Linked DNA regions of Homo sapiens: region 2 is linked to region 1. The links come from fine-mapping of genetic effects on gene expression. A gene starts in region 1. The other region holds a variant in brackets. All regions are shown on one strand. Distances are between the middles of the regions.

Evidence for each region. PIP is the estimated chance that this variant, and not a neighbour inherited with it, causes the effect.
Region 2: its variant is the best candidate, but not a certain one, in a credible set for the expression of RNF207 in tibial artery (GTEx, PIP 0.86).

Annotation. Positions count from the first base shown.
Region 1 is chr1:6,202,185-6,210,505 of GRCh38, forward strand. RNF207 (ring finger protein 207) reads left to right here and starts at 3,935. Exons shown (of 18, transcript NM_207396.3): 1 at 3,935-4,118; 2 at 4,352-4,542; 3 at 5,195-5,327; 4 at 6,697-6,841; 5 at 6,931-7,012; 6 at 7,084-7,159; 7 at 7,230-7,355; 8 at 7,740-7,786; 9 at 8,039-8,111; 10 at 8,186-8,254. The coding sequence starts at 4,352. It overlaps RNF207-AS1 (RNF207 antisense RNA 1), which reads right to left and starts at 3,596. Exons shown (of 3, transcript NR_125997.1): 1 at 3,570-3,596; 2 at 3,022-3,229; 3 at 2,656-2,798. RefSeq lists silencers at 2,965-3,259, 4,208-4,377, 6,525-6,819, 6,864-6,933 and enhancers at 3,311-4,130, 3,778-4,007.
Region 2 is chr1:6,324,979-6,333,299 of GRCh38, forward strand. ACOT7 (acyl-CoA thioesterase 7) reads right to left here. Exons shown (of 9, transcript NM_007274.4): 5 at 2,321-2,435. Among named protein-coding and RNA genes, the nearest start is that of ACOT7, 65 kb to the right of the region's middle. The variant A/G (reference allele first, on the strand shown) is at 3,744.

The DNA of each region.
Region 1 (8,321 bases):
TTCGAGACAGGGTCTTACTCTATCACCCAGGTGGGACTGCAGAGGTGCAGTCACAGCTCACTGCAGCCTCAACCTCCTGGCTCAAGCAATCCTTCCACCTCAGCCTCTCAAGTAGCTGGGACTACAAGCACGAGCCACCATGCCCAGCTAAGTTTTAGTATTTTTTATAGAGGGGGGAGTCTTGCTATGTTGCCCAAGCTGGTCTTGAACTCCTGGGCTCAAGAGATTCACCCACGCTGGCCTCCCAAAGTGCTGGGATTACGGGTGTGGGCCACTGCGCCCAGCCTTCCTGGCTTTTCTTAATTTCTTATCCTCTGGGGGTCTCAAGCTCAGTTCCCCCTCTCTGCTCATGGTTACCTAGTGTGGTCCTCAGCTCGAGCCCCTCCCAACTGCCCTCCATCTCATCATCCTTATTTATTTATTTAATTTTTTAGGCGGAATCTCACTCTGTCACCCAAGCCGGAGTGCAGTGGCGCCATCTCGATTCTCCTGCCTCAGCCTCGCAAGAGTAGCTGGGATTACAGGCATGCACCACTACACCCAGCTAATTTTTCCTTTTTTTCCTTTTTTTTTTTTTTTTTTTTTTTTTTTGAGACAGAGGTCTCACTCTGTCACTCAGGCTGGAGTGCAATGGCGCAATCTCGGCTCACTGCAACCTCCACCTGCCAGGTTCAAGCAATTTTCCTGCCTCAGCCTCCGAAGTAGCTGGGACTCCAGGTGCGTGCCACCATGCCTGGCTAATTTTTTGTACTTTTAGTAGAGACAGGGTTTCACCATGCTGGCCAGGCTGGTCTCGAACTCCTGACCTCGTGATCCACCCGCCTCGGCCTCCCAAAGTGCTGGGATAACAGGCATGATCCATCGTGCCCAGCTAATTTTTGTATTTTTAGTAGAGACGGGTTTTCACTATGTTGGCCAGGTTGGTCTCGAACTCCTGACTTCAGGTGATCCGCCCACCTCAGCCTCCCAAAGTGCTGAGATTACAGGTGTGAGCCACGGCACCCGGCCTATCATCCTTATGATTTTCTTCCAAGCAGTTAATGCAGCCTGTCATTATTTGTTAATCTGTGTACTTGACTAACCTTGGCTGGTGTGTTCCCTTCTATGTGCCCATGGTAGATGCTCTGTAAATACTAGTTGAACAGATGCAGACATGAATGAATGGATGAATGAAGCACTCACCTCCTACCGGGAAACTAATGCATCATTCCTTAACAAAGCACCTACGCGGTTTTGTATACCAGCTCCACCACTTTCTGGGGTAATATTTTCTACTTTTTAAGAGTGTTCTCCAGATTAAATGAGTTAATATAAGTTAAACAGCTTAGAATAAAATATTGGCCCATATCTCCCCACCCTCCCTCCCCTTGTACAAAAAAAAAAAAAAAAGGCCCGGTGTGGTGGCTCACGCCTGTAATCCCAGCACTTTGGGAGGCAGAGGCGGGCAGGTCACCTGAGGTCGGGAGTTCGAGACCAGCCTGACCAACATGGAGAAACCCCGTCTCTACTAAAAATACAAAATCAGCCAGGCGCGGTGGCACATGCCTATAATCCCAGCTACTCGGGAGGCTGAGGCAGGAGAATCGCTTGAACCCGGGAGGCGGAGGTTGTGGTGAGCTGAGATGGCGCCATTGCACTCCAGCCTGGGCAACAAGAGCAAAACTCCATCTCAAAAAAAAAAAAAAAAAAAGAATCTTGGCCCATAAAAGAATGTTGGCCTATAAACACATAAACATTAGCCATTGCTACTACTGTCATTATGATTTGGTCCACAAATAGAACCAGGGCTAGGGACCGGGCATGGTGGCTCACGCCTGTAATCCCAGCACTTTGGGAGGCCAAGGTGGGGCGGATCACGAGGTCAGGAGATCGAGACCATCCTGTGAATGGTGAAACCCTGTCTCTACTAAAAATACAAAAAATTAGCCGGCCGTGGTGGCGGGCACCTGTAGTCCCAGCTACTCGGGAGGCTGAGGCAGGAGAATGGCGTGAACCCAGGAGGCGGAGCTTGCAGTGAGCCGAGATTGCGCCACTGCACTCCAGCCTGGGTGACAGAATGAGACTCAGTCTCAAAAAAAAAAAAAAGAACCAGGGCTAGGGACAGTCCTCAAAAGAACAGCTAGTTTCTCTCTAGAATTCACTTCCTTCTCCTAGCAAACTCCTACTCCTACGCATCCTTCAAAACCCAGCTCAAGGCCAGGCAAGGCGGCTCACGTCTGTAATCCCAGCAACTTTGGAAGGCCAAGGCAGGCAGAATGCTTGAGCCCAGGAGTTGGAGACCAGCCTGGGTAACACAGCAAAACCCCCGATGTGTGCAGCACATTGTACTTTTTATTTTTCTACTAAAAATACAAAAAAAAAAAAAAAAAAAAGGCTGGGTTCAGTGGCTCACACCTGTAATCCCAGCACTTTGGGAGGCCAAGGTGGGTGGATCACCTGAGGTCAGGAGTTCGAGACCAGCCTGGTCAACATGGTGAAACCCCGTCTCTACTAAAAATACAAAAAATTAGCCGGGCATGGTGGTGCGTGGTTGTAGTCCCAGCTACTTGGGAGGCTGAGGTGGAAGGAAGCCAAGGCTGCAGTTAGATATGATCACGCGGCGACAGAGTGAGATCCTGTCTTAAACAAAACAAAACGAAAACAGCTCAAATATCTCCGAGCTTTTTCTAAGCCTTTATTGAGCACTACTGTGGGTCAGGCTCTGGGCTTGACTTTGTAATCGCAAGAGGGGCAGAAACGGGCTGCTCTCAGGACACTCAGGAGAACACGGGCGGAGAAAGCTCACTGATCACGTCGACCTAGCAAGCGAGCGCACGCTGGAGAAAACGCTGGGATCAACACGCATCTGCCAGGCCCAGACGGCAGAGGGGGCACTGCTGGAAAGGCCGGGAACCTCCCCTCTCAACCTCCCACCCAAACCCATCCCTCTTTTGGGAACTTGGCAGGCAATGAGGATAGGGCCTTAATTAAGTGGACGCCCAGTATGTGTATTTCACGTGCGTTATTCCACTGGGGCCTCACCCATTATCAGGACACCAGTTCTATTTTAACCCAGCGCTGAGGCTCTGAGAGGTCAGTAACATGGCCAAGAGCTCACAACCAGCGAAAGGCAGGGCTGGGATTACAGGGCGTCTCACTCCGCCTCCCAAGCGCTGGAAAGTCGGTGGAGGGGCGTCCGCTGCTCTCTGGCGCCCCCAATTGGCCGCCGAGGAAATGAGGCGGCGATGACCTGTTCAGACCCAAATGGGATGGAAGAGTGGGGATTAGCGGGGGTAGGGGGTGGGGTTTGGACTCTTTTTTTTTTTTAAGACAGTCTGGCTCTGTAGCCCAGGCTGGAGTGCAGTGGCGCGATCTCGGCTCACTGCAACCTCCGCCTCCCGGGTTCAAGCAGTTCTGCCTCAGCCTCCCGAAGGGCGCCACCATGCCTGGCTAATTTTTGCATTTTTAGTAGAGACAGGGTTTCGCCATGTTGGCCAGGCTGGTCTCGAACTCCTGACCTCAAGCTATCTGCCCGCCTCGGCCTCCCAGAGTGCCGAGATTACAGGCGTGAGCCACCGCGCCCGGCCTACCCTTGAAGACCCCGCAGCCAAGGTCCTCCGGCCCCGCTCTGCGCGGCGCTCTGGTCTTGGGGCTCCGGACTCTGTCATGCCGGGCAGGGGCCAGTCCGATCCTTGCACCCTTGCCTGGCACCGTCCCTGGAGCCTTGGCGTCCTGGCCTCTCCTCCCCGCGGGCTGGAGGTGGAGTGGCCGGGCCGGAACCAGTGCGCAAAGCAGATGGCGAGCGCGGAGGTCGGTTCGGCCCCGCCGCGCCTCAAGGCAGCAGCCACCCTGGGGAAGGTGGATGCCGGAAGAGGCGTCGCCTGCGGGTCACCCAGAGGACACCCGGCGGGGAATTCCGAGGGTGGGAGTGAGGAGAGGTAGGAGAGGCCACGGCAGAGGGAGGCCCCGCGCAGAGTGGGAACCATCGCCCGGTGCGGGCCTGAACTTCCAGGGCCGGCTACTCCTCGGCAGAGCGACCGCGCGGTGTCTCAGAGCGCGGCCCGGAGCCGCACTAAGAGCGCTGGACGGCGGGAGAGAGGCTCGGAGGACCGGTAGCTCCCAGCAAAGCGGCCCAGCGGGTAGGTACAAGGCCCCGCCCCTCGCCAGTCCTCACTGCCTGTTCTCCCTGCGCCGGGGAGCTCCAGGCCCCAGCCCTAACCTGGGCCCTAGCGGCTCCCCACTCCATGACCTCTGGACGCCCAGTCGGGTCCAGGCGCGATAGGGAGGGCGCGGGCGCCCGGGCAGAGGGGCCGCGGGAGCTCAAGCGGGGCTCCGTGCGTGCCCCAGCCGCCCGCTTGCGCTGTCGCTGCAGATGTCGGGAGCTATCTTCGGGCCCCTGGAGGGCCCGAGCTCCCTGGATGCCCCGAGCATCCACCCGCTGGTGTGCCCGCTGTGCCACGTGCAGTACGAGCGCCCGTGTCTTCTGGACTGTTTCCACGACTTCTGTGCCGGCTGCCTGCGTGGCCGCGCGACCGACGGCCGCCTCACCTGCCCGCTGTGCCAGTAAGTGTCCCAAAGTTCCCCAAAACCCCCCAGACCCCATCCCCCGGGCCCAAGGTTGGCTCTGCCCGAGCTGGGACCCAGGTGCCAGGAGAGTAAGGCTCCAACTTCAGGCAGAACGACTGGGAGATACTGCACCCGGTCCTTAGCTCTCCCCGCCAGAAGTTGCAGGCTTCGGTCCATTTTATAGATCAGCTTAACTGAAGCCTGGAGATTGCAGTTACTGGCCCAAGACCTCCCATCAAAAGTCAGAGGGTAAGGGCGGGGCTCCAGCACTGGTCAGGACGCTCCCGGTTACTCGCTTGGGGGTCCTAGAAGTCTTAGGTCCACAAAACCACAGTTTCAGTTATGTGGGCTCAAGGAACCCAGGAGTGGCTCTGATTTGCCCAATGCCGTGAGAAGATGTCGAGGAGCAGCTTCTGCTTTTGATACTAGGGGACCAACCCCACTGTCTGCAGGAGTGCCCAGGACTGGGCAAGGGTAGGGACCAGGGCAGGGTGAGTGCTGGCTGTGATATTTATAGCAGACCCCAGAGCTGTGGTGCACCCCACCTCCCAACACAGCTATTTTTAGCTCCAGCCTGGAATGTGAGGGGTGGGGGTGGGGAGCCCTGGGGAAGGGGTATCAGAATCTCGGGGCCTGGGCTTCTCTGCAGACACCAGACGGTGCTGAAGGGTCCCAGCGGGCTCCCGCCGGTGGACCGGCTGCTGCAGTTCCTGGTGGACAGCTCAGGGGATGGCGTGGAGGCGGTGCGCTGTGCCAACTGTGACCTGGAGTGCAGCGAGCAGGCAGGGGCGGCAGGGCGGGTGGGTGAGGAGCAGAGGGTACCCGGTTGCACAGTCCCCAATGCTTGCACATGCACTCAGCATGTCTTCAGAGGACGACCTGGCAGTGGATTCTCCAGCACCTCCCTAGGGCACCTTGGCCCCAAATGTGAACCCCATTATACCGGTGGGGAGACTGAGGTCCAGAACAAGGGACTTGAGCCAGTGTCCAGACAGTGGCAGAGGCTAAGGCCATTCGATCTGGGGAGAGCTCACTGGTCCCCAATTCAGGGTGGAGTTGTGGACCTGCACAGGAGGGGCAGTCCAGTTTGCAGGCCTGGGCCGACCCTGAAGGGCCTCTGCTACCCAAGTGGCATAGAAGCAGCTACAGCCCAGGGGAGGTGGGGACAGCATGCTGTTCCCTCTGGGCTGTAAAAGGCACAGGGGACTCTGGCCTGCGGAGGCCAGAAAATGTATCGGGAATCCCAGGAGGACGGCCCGACTGGGGCAAAAGCTCCAGCGTTCTGGACAAGTGCTGAGCAATGTGTGACCCAGACGTACAGAGAGGATTAGCAGGAGGTAGGGACTGCAGGTAGGGCCTGTTATGTCCATCATTGCATGCGTCCATACCAGGGCTGCAGGCCAAGCCCTGGAATCCCAGCCCTGGGTCTGGCTTGGGGAGGAGAACCTTAAAGCCCTCACTGCTCTTCCCCTCCCCCCGCCCCCAAGTGTGACTCCAGATGGCCAGGGTGTACACCACCTTTCGGCCACTATTGAGTGTGCCAAGGGGGCCGTGAGAGGCCCTCACACCCTTTTGTTGCAGGTAAAAAAAAAAAAATTTTTTTTTTTGAGACGGATTCTTGCTTTATCGCCCAGGCTGGAGTGCAGTGGCGCCAACTTGACTCACAGCAACCTCTGCCTCCCGAGTTCAAGTGATTCTTCTGCCTCGGCCTCCCGAGGAGCTGGGACTCCAGGCGCCCGCCACCATGCCCAGCTAATTTTTGTATTTTTATTAGAGACAGGGTTTCGCCATGTTGGCCAGCTCCTGACCTCAGGTGATCCGCCCGCCTCGGCCTCCCAAATTGTTGGGATTACAGGCGTGAGCCACCGCGCCCGGCCTCGGTAAAATGTTTTATAAAGGCAGTTTCTGCCCTCTCCCCGCGTCCCCCACCCCCCTCCACGGACCTACTTACCCAGCCTCTGAGCCGCAGTGCCCTCCTCTGTAAAGTGGGTATATCAGAGCGCCAAGTGCCTGGATTACAGGAAAGGGCTGCGTTTAGCTGCGCACCCGGCCACGGCTGGGACAAACACGCGCAGTGACACGCGGCGGCTGCGGTTCCCGCGCTGGCCGCGGTCGGGCTCTGGCGCTCCTGAGCCCGCGCTCGGCCCGCAGGACGTGGAGACCACGTACTTCTGCAACACGTGCGGACAGCCCCTATGCGCGCGCTGCCGCGACGAGACGCACCGAGCACGCATGTTCGCGCGCCACGACATCGTGGCCCTGGGTCAGCGAAGCCGCGACGTGCCCCAGAAGTGCAGTGAGTGAGGCTTGCGGGGCCGGGGACTTGGGGGTGGGGGCGGGGCGGGCACTGACCGGAGCCCTCACCACCGCCCGCCGCCCCCGCAGCGCTGCACGCAGAGCCCTACCTCTTGTTCTCCACCGACAAGAAGTTGCTGTTGTGCATCCGCTGCTTCCGCGACATGCAGAAGTGCGTACAGGGGACGCGAGGGGAGGGGGCTGGGGGCCGCTGGAGCGGGCCTCACCCGCCGCCTTCTGCAGGGAGAGCCGGGCACACTGCGTGGACCTGGAATCGGCTTACGTGCAGGGCTGCGAGCGGCTGGAGCAGGCGGTGCTGGTGAGCGCAGGGGCCTGGCGCGCGGGGCCGCGCGGCGGCGATCGCGAGCCTGACCACGCCCTGTCCCCAGGCCGTGAAGGCCCTGCAGACGGCCACGCGGGAGGCCATCGCGCTGCTGCAGGCCATGGTGGAGGAGGTGCGGCACAGCGCCGCCGAGGAGGAGGACGCTATCCACGCCCTCTTCGGCAGCATGCAGGTGAGGGGTGGGGGTTGGGGGATAAACGACCCAGCCGGGACCTGGTGACACAGGGCTGGTCCCTTGCCCTTGTGGATTTCCAGTGTAGTGGGGCAGCAGGCCTTGCACCAAGCACTTTCCTGGAGTTGCTAGGAGAGCTGGGAGGGGAAACCAGGGCCTGCCGCAGGCTGGTGGTGGGGGTGTGAGGTGGTCAGGAAAGACTTCCCTGGGGAGGTGACATTTAAGGTGACGGGACCCAAGCCCTCACCAGGCAGCAGATGCAGGGCTGGTAGGTTGGAGAGATACCTAGTGTAACCAGCAGGTGGCTGGGGTCCGGGGGGTAGGCATGGTGGGAGGTGGCAGGGCTGGGGCGCAAATCAAGAGCATGCTCGCCATCTCTCCCAGGACAGGCTGGCAGAGAGGAAAGCGCTGCTGCTGCAGGCTGTGCAGAGGTGAGTTGGGGGGAGCGGGGCTTGCTTCCCTTACCCCTTGGCCTCCATGGCCTCAGCTCAGAGCCTGGGCAGGCCCTGCCCCACCCTGAGGAGCAAGACATCCGAATGTCCTCCCAGCTAAGGAGGGCAGCATGGCTCAGGGTGCAGAGAAGGGGTTCAGGGACGGACATGCGAAGCTGGAGGCGGGTGGGGGATGGAACTGCCCGGCCCTGCTCCTGGCCCCCTGGAAACCAGGCAGCCCCCCTCCCCCAGCCAATACGAAGAGAAGGACAAGGCCTTCAAGGAGCAGCTCTCTCACTTGGCCACCTTGCTGCCCACCCTGCAGGTACAGGGAGCTCGGGGTGCGGGTGGGTCCCTCCTCCTCCCCGGCCAGGCACTGAGCAGCATCCCCTCCCCCAGGTCCACCTGGTCATCTGCTCCTCCTTCCTCAGCTTGGCCAACAAGGCTGAGTTCCTGGACCTGGGCTATGTGAGTCTCCTCTGCTCCTGCAGATGCCCCCTCCCCACCAGGAGCCCACCCTGCAGACCAAAGCCAC
Region 2 (8,321 bases), 120 kb after region 1:
GTCTGACCTGACTGCTGGGCTGCCCTCCCAAAAGCACGGCCTGGGCACTGCCTGCCCCAGCACGTGCCTCCAGGCCTGTCTGGTGTATTGCTGTGTTGATAAACTGGCTGTTTAAATTTTATTTTTAAAAGATATCTCAGCCGGGCGCAGTGGCTCACGTCTGTAATCCCAGCTCTTTGGGAGGCCGAGGTGGGCGGATCACGAGGTCAGGAGATCGAGACCATCCTGGCTAATACGGTGAAACCCCATCTCTACTAAAAATACAAAAAATAAGTGGGGCATGGTGGCGGGCGCCTGTAGTCCCAGCTACTGGGGAGGCTGAGGCAGGAGAATGGCGTGAACCCGGGAGGCAGAGCTTGCAGTGAGCTGAGATCGCGCCACTGCACTCCAGCCAGGAGGATAGAGCGAGATTCTGCCTCAAATTAAAAAAAAAAAAAGATATCTCTTTACTGGGGTTTCATCAAAGCAGCACCATTCTTTCTATTAATACTGACACATTAATTTTCTTTCTTTCTTTTTTTGGTGTTTGTTAAAAAGCAGACATGAAAAGAGAGGAAACCTACAGTGGTTTCCCCAACAGTAAAGAAACCGACCTACCCAGTCCCACTGGCCTAAGGTGACAACCAGTCCGCTTTTGGCAAGTTGAGGCTGGAGCACAGACTGAGTCAGAGACACACATGTGAGACCAAATACACACAAACTCCTGTTCAAGCCTCAAGTTGACCCGCCCAGAAAACAAGCACACTCCTGCTGCATGCCAGCAGCCAAGCCCAGAAAGCCATGCTCTCATCTGTGCGCCCACTGGGTTTTCACCAGTCCCCTTTGGTGCTTATGTGGACTAAGCAAGGGAGGTGAGCGGCCATAACAATGCCCCGAGTCCAGGTTAGCAGGGGCCAGGGCGCCTCTCGGCAGGGCTAGGAGCAGGTGGACCCCAGAGTGGAGCCCACATCACAGGCACATCCAAGGGGGAAAGGGATTACTTGAGGCAGGTCCTCCACCACTGCTGAGGGTGGAGGCAAAACAGAGAAAGCTGAGTAAGAAACTCAAACACCCACCATGACCAGGGTCTCCCAAGGCATGGTGGGGGGCAGCAAACCCTCCTCAGGCTGCCATCCCGCATGAGGTACCCTGTGGAACCCAGCACAGAGCACGAATGTGCCACGAGCCCAGGCCATCGCAGGGAGGCAGAGAAGCACACAGTGCGTCCTGGAGGGAGTTCTCCTGCCACTACGACAACATGACCACCATGTGTGCAGTAGGGAGAGGGGTAATGCTCGTTGCCTGCCCCCGAGGGCTCACCCTTTTCCTAGGGGGACAGATGCTCCCCAGGGCCCCCTGCCCTGAATTGTTTCTAGGAACGCGGGGAGTTCTCTGGGTAGAAAGTCCTTGCTTGAGGCAAAACATCTCATCGTGCCTTCGTTTAGATTTTGAGTGAACATTTTGTTAAAGCCAGAGCACCCTGACATGAGAGCAAGAGGATGGATGGCAGAAGGGACCAACACCACAGGGAAACTGGGCATGCCACAGAGCCCAGTGCCTACTGGCAGAGCCCCTCCTCCAATCAATGTCTGAACAGTGGGGCCGGGAAGAAGTGGCGCTTGAACAGCTGCTGCCGTTTTTTTCTTTTTTGGATGAGTTGGAAATCCCATCAAGAACAAGCCACTTGGCCAGGTGTGGTGGTTCACACATGTAATCTCAGCACTTTGGGAGGCCAAGGCAGGCTCATCACTTGAGGTCAGGAGTTAGAGACCAGCCTGGCCAATATGGTGAAACCCCATCTCTACTAAAAATACAAAAATTAGCCGGGCATGGTGGCACATGCCTGTAATTGTAATACCAGCTACTCGGGAGGCTGAGGCAGGAGAATCACTTGAACCCAGGAGGCAGAGGCTGCAGTGAGCCAAGATTGTGCCAGTGCACTCCAGCTTGTGTGACATAGCAAGACTCCAACTCAAAAAAAAAAAAAAAAGAAAAGAACAAGCCACTGAGCGAACACAAGGAAAAGATACAACAAAAACAAATTCCTTGTGAACAGGTGCACACCACCTGCCTGGCAATGGAGGCCCCACGCACAGTGCCCTCTGGGACTCCCTGAGTCACGCAGGTCGCCTTCCAGGTGTGTGACTGGAGGGGTCTACATGGCTCAGGGCGGGGCTGGGGGACAGCCCTCCCTGGGGACCCCAGAGAAACTGGTTCCCGGAGAGCATGCTCAGCACCTGGGGAACCTCAAGCATGAGGCTCACGTAGGCCCGGCCTGCTCCTGCCTCCTATGCGTCCCCGGTGAGGAGTGGCACCTGCTGCTGGTGTCCGCGGCTCTTACCTGGGTTGAGGACTGGCTGGACGATGTCCCCGTTCCTCCACTTGGTCTCCATGCGCTCCAGCTTCTGGGCTTCATACCGCTTCCGGCCCTCCTCCTCCTGCTCCTGCCGGGAATACTGCGAGAAACCAAAGACAGGTCAGGCCCAGGCAGGACACGGCCTCCTCCCCTCGCTGGGCGGCCATGATCCCAGGCCCTTATAGCCTTGTGTAACTGGGACTATTTTTTCTTCTGTTCATGTGTGTTTTAATATAAGTAATAAGAATACAGAAACAGTGAAATCCCATGTGGCTCCACTCCCCAGAGAGACAACCTGGGTCAAGTGTTTGGTTTAGATCCTTCCTGGAATTGCTTTAATGCCTACAAATATATAAAAAGCTCTATGGTGCTGTATGTGGAGCTTAAAAGCAACCGTGTATCTATTTAACGTAATTTTTGTAACTATGTGGGCACTTAGCTTGTTCCCAATTTTTCTTTACTTTTCTTTTCTTTGTTTTTGAGATGGAGTCTCGCTCTGTCCCAGGCTGAAGTGCAGTGGCGTGATCTCAGCTCACTGCAACCTCTGCCTCCCGGGTTCAAGTGATTCTCCTGCCTCAGCCTCCCCGGTACCTGGGACGACAGGTGCCCGCCACCATGCCCGGCTAATTTTTGTATTTTTAGTAGAGATGGGGTTTCACGATGTTGGCCAGGCTCATCTTGATCTCTTGACCTTGCGATCTGCCCGCCTCAGCCTCCCAAAGTGCTGGGATTACAGGCGTGAGCCACCGTGCCCGGCCCCCGCTTTTTCACTATTAAAACCATACTGATCCTAGGTTACTTAAAATCATTTTGCACTGTCCCATTGCTTCCTAGGATTCATTACAGAATAAAGGGATCCTCAAAAAGGCCCCACCCACTCTCCAAAGTCCATGACAGAGCAGGAACCCTGTGTGTCCCTGCTGACCCTTGGCCAATCAAACAGGTTATATATTGGTAGAGAATGGGCAGTAAAAGATGGAACTGTCCTCCCACGGCTCTCCAAATGAATCACAGGGGTTTTGACTCCAGAAGTTAAAAATAAATGTGACTATAAGACTCAGCACAGGCCGGGCATGGTGGCTCGTGCCTGTAATCCCAGCAATTTGGGAGGCTGAGGCGGGTGGATCACTTGAGGTCAGGAGTTCGAGACTAGCCTGGCCAACATGGTGAAACCCCTGGCCAACATGGTGAAACCCCGCCTCTACTAAAAATACCAAAATTAGCCAGGGGTGGTGGTGGGCACCTGTAGTCTTAGCCACTCGGGAGGCTGAGGCAAGGGAATCGCTTGAATCCGGGAGATGGAGGTTGCAGTGAGCCGAGATTGCGCCACTGCACTCCAGCCTGGGCGACAGAGCGAGACTCCGTCTAAAAAAATAAATAAATAAATAAAAAACACCAACAACTCAGC[A/G]CAAAAGCCAAAGCTCCTGAGTCCCGGGACACAGCAGGGGGATACTGCATTTCTTGGACGTAACAGACGGTTCACTCACTGCCCTGCTGTGCACACTGGAGGGGATGCACCACACTCGGATGGGACCCTCGGAGGGGCCCTCGGGGCCTGTGTGCTGGCCGCAGGCTGGTTCCAGACCCTCTGCCTGCTCCATCCCCCACGACCTTCTCCCTCCCCCTTGGCCTGGCCAGGGGCCGACTACCACCTGGCTGTTCTGATTAGCCTCCACTTCTGCTCTCACATTCACTCAACCAACCATTCCAGCTGAGCTTGTGGGGAAGCCACGGAACTCAGGGCCCCTCTGGGCCCCTCGGCCGCCTGTTGAAGCCCCTCTGACCTAAGCAAGTTCACTTCAGACGGCTGTGTTAGGCCTTCTTTCAAAAGCCAGTTTTAAACATCTCGATAATTCCTGCTCATGGCTCAGCTCCAAAATTGTGCAGGGTCTCAGCACCATTCACCGTTCCTCGGCGTAACTACCCATCATCTTCAGTTGAGAACCCATCTTCAAAAGAGGCTGAGAAGGGAGCTGAAGCGTTTGTTCAAAAGAAGCAAACTGTGGGGAGTGTTTTAAGTTGCAGTGGATAATTCAACCTTTTCCTCCATAAATAAACCACGTCCTAATGTTCCACCGGCCAAGTAACGACTGTGAGAAGAGAGTCTGTGCTGTGTATCTACCTAGGAACATTGGTGGGTGAACTTCAGCATCCTCAAGAGATGCCTTTTAAAGGGATTTTTTTTTTTAAAGGAGCCAGCCCCCGGTCTAATAAATCCTCATGGTATCCAGTACATTTGTCTGGGCTTGGCAGGCGCACAGGGAAATGATGGGGCCCAGTCCTGGACACAAGCCATGAGGAGAAGCCCAGCCTCCTCCCCAATGCTGCCTTTCCATCTGGGAACAAAACCGCTGGAACATTTTAATGATGGCTGGCACCTAACTCTCACCCCCGAGAGCTCATCAAACCCAACTGATCTGAAGCAGCAGACAGCGTGGCCCAAATATCTGAGAGACAGGCTGTGAACCTCTTCGCTAGAGCACATATTCAGACATTTGAAAAAAACCAAAGCATCCACCCCCGACAGCCACTCAGCCTGTCCAGGGCTGCGGCTGCCCCTCTGGTCATCCTGGGGCCCCTCGGGCCCATCACAGGCCCACCGAGGTTCCCTGCTCACTGGGAAAGCTGCAGGCAGGCTGGGGAGGAAGGTGGAGCAAAGAAAAGACATCCTGCGCTAGACGACTGTGCGCATGGCCGGCAGCTGGGTTCCTCCAGGGAGACGCACACATCCAGGAAACCAGTGTGTGTGTGTGGTGTGTGTGTGTGTGTGCGTGTTCAAGATATCTACATGCATACGTATGTGACATCTCTATTTGTATGTGTATATATAATATATATCTGTATATCTATACATACAGGGACGTACATTTTCCTAAATCGGGGATGGCTGTCTGTAGAAAGGTCAGCGGGAGCATGCTCATGCAATATAAGACAGCCCTGTGGCCAGGCCACCAGCAGATGGGCATAAATGCCCATCGGAGCCAGGGAAGGAAGCTGTACTTTCTGGGATTCCTAAGCAGGCCTCTGGCCGGGCCCACCAGTGAAAAACAGGAGACCTAGATTCCAAATCAGTGGGAGGTTTATACTACGTGGGCCTAGCGTGTGTTGGGGGGAAGATGGTGCAAAGAGCTCTGAACAACAGCTGCAGCTGAGAACCGTGCAGCCTCTCCCATCTGCGGCTCCGGCTGCCTCGGAGCCATGGAATGGTTTCAACAACTCCTCGACAAGGCCAAGTTGGTATTTATGTCTCATCAAACCCACTCTACAAAGGAAATGAAAAAGCAACTGGGAGCTCCTCCAGGATGTGGGAGGGAGGGAGCTAATTACTGGGCAAGGAGAGGCGAGGCTAACAGGGGCCACGCTGAAAGCACCCTGTCCCTGCAGCGAGGGGATGGGAGCCAGGGGAGTCAGAAGCTACCCGTCCCCTCCACTGGCCAAAAACCCAACAGCTCTTGGCGCATCGATCCTAAGCGACAAGGCAGCAAAAGTGACTGTGTTCAGGTCCAGGCCCGCCCCTCGGTATCACCCGCCTGAGATGCACCATCAGATGCTGAAGCCAGGCATGGGGCCTGGGAGAGATTTCAGAACTGGGTAGCATCTGAAAATTAAATCCGTTAAATGCTATGTCTCAATATTTACATGTGATGTGGCTCACTGAACGCCAAGGGCTTAGAGAAAAGAATGAACGTGGGGTGGGTGTGCTTGCAATTCTGCGGAGAACAGCCAGGAGCCCCCATCTGACCCCTGCTCCTTAGGTCTTCAATCACCCCCAAGTTAGCACTGCTGAAAATGACCACAACTTCCATCTCAGCCAAGAAGCAGGGAGAGAACAGCCCCACAAGAACAAGAGACGGGAGAGGTTGTTGAACCGAGGGCTGGTGCAGTGGGTTGAACAGCATCCCTCAAAATGTATATCCACCTGAAACCTCAAAATGCAAATGCTCCAAAAACCAGGTCTTTGTAGTTGTAAACAGTTAGAATGAGGTCACAGCAGAATGGGACGGGCCCTGAGCCCAGTGACCCGTACTCCGGTAAGCAGGCCGTGCGAAGATGGAGGCAGAAGCTTCAGTGACGCAGCCTCAGCCAAGGGACGCCTGGAGCCACCCGGCGCTGGAGACGCCAGGAGGGATCCTCGCCTGGGGCCAATGGAGGGCGCAGGGCCTTGCCCATACCTTTGCACTTCTGGCCTCCAGAACTGTGACAGAATCAACTTCTATTGTTTGAGAGCTACCCAGTCAGTGGCACTTTGTCACAGCAGCCCCGGGACACTGTCAGGTGGGAATATGAGACCTCGGACTCCACACCCCGACCCTGAGCCCCCGCCCACTGGCCAGATTCTGGCATGCTGCCATCCTGCTCTCATAAAACCAAAGGTGCAGCCACCAGCCTGCCCTTCCCATTAAATATGGACAGGGCTCCCCTGTCACCAAGATTAAAAAAAAACAAAACCTAGGCCAAACAGCAGCTGGACCCGGCAGCCAGCCACACCCACCTGGGGAGACACCCCACCCAGACCTTCACTGCCCTCTGAGGAGACCCTGGCAGGGTGCCTGGTCAGACACGGAGCTGGGGACAGAAGAGACGGCAGGAAGCAGGTCTCAAGGAGCACCTCCCCAGTCTCACATGGGCAGTGGCAGCAGGGACCGAGGCCCCATCAGCCCTGGTGACCGGGGGGCCACGGGAAGATGGAGAGCCAGGCCTCCTACAGGCGGGAAGTGGCCTGCACCCGGCAAACGCTGGGGAGGGAACCAAGGCTGCCGGCAGCGGCAAGAGCACCCAGCGTCTCTATTGGGTCTGGAAGCAAAAAGAGCAGGCACCAATTCCTGACAATCTGGTTCTCAGTTTTATTATTTCTAAAAATGTATTCTATATATATATCTCAGCCGGAGGAAAAGCTCCCTGCCGGGGCCCACACTGCAGAGACTCAGAATCCTGGTTCCTTCCCTCTAAGAAGAGCTCTTCCTGGGGGCTGTGGCCTGTGGACCGCAGGGTCAGGCTGCGGGAGGAGCTGGTCACATCTGTCCTTGGACTTGCCAATGAACTTGGGGCACAGGAGAAGGAGGCGAGGGAGTACTTTTAGGCAACGAATTAAATTTCTTTATTCCCAACGTCTCCCCTCCAGGAGTCTGTATGTGTGGCTTCCACAGGCTTCGCCCACAGGCCCGCCCATGGCAGGACCCCTCTGACAACATAATGAACTGGTATTATGAAAGGTGCTTCTGCCGGGCGCAGTGGTTCACACCTGTAATCCCAGCACTTTGGGAGGCCGAGGTGGGTGGATCATGAGGTCAGGAGATCAAGACCATCCTGGCTAACATGGAGAAATCCCGTCTCTACTAAAAAATATATATAAAATAATTAGCTGGGTGTGGTGGCGGGCGCCTGTAGTCCCAGCTACTCAGGAGGCTGAGGCAGGAGAATGGCGTGAACGTGGGAGGCGGAGCTTGCAGTGAGCCGAGATCGCGCCACTGCACTCCAGCCTGGGCAACAGAGCAAGATTCCGTCTCAAAAAAACAAAAAAAAACAAAAAAAACAAAAAGAAAGAAAGAAAGAAAGATGCTTCCAACCACAGCGAAGCCAGAAATGAGAGAAACACAGAGAAGGAGACAGACCCCAGCAGGGGACAAGAAGGGAGAAAGACAAAAGCTCATATGACAACTGTTTCCACAGCCACTGCGTCAGAAGCAGAGATCAGAACCAGCTTGCAGGGGCCACGGGGGAACAGCTGGCCCGGCCCCCGCAGCCTGGTGGTCCTGGCTCCCGAAAGGACATGTCACTATCACGATCCTGTCACCGTCTTTTCTCTGGTTAGGGAGTGTGACAAAAAGGTCCCTAGGTTGGAGGGATGTTTATGTCCACGGGTTCTGGGCCAGCTTGCGCTCACATTCCCAGCATGAATTAAACATACATTAGAAGATCCCACACAGACATGTCTCCTCCCCACCCGTGTTTCCTCGGAGGCAGGACAGAAACTCCTGTGGAGCCA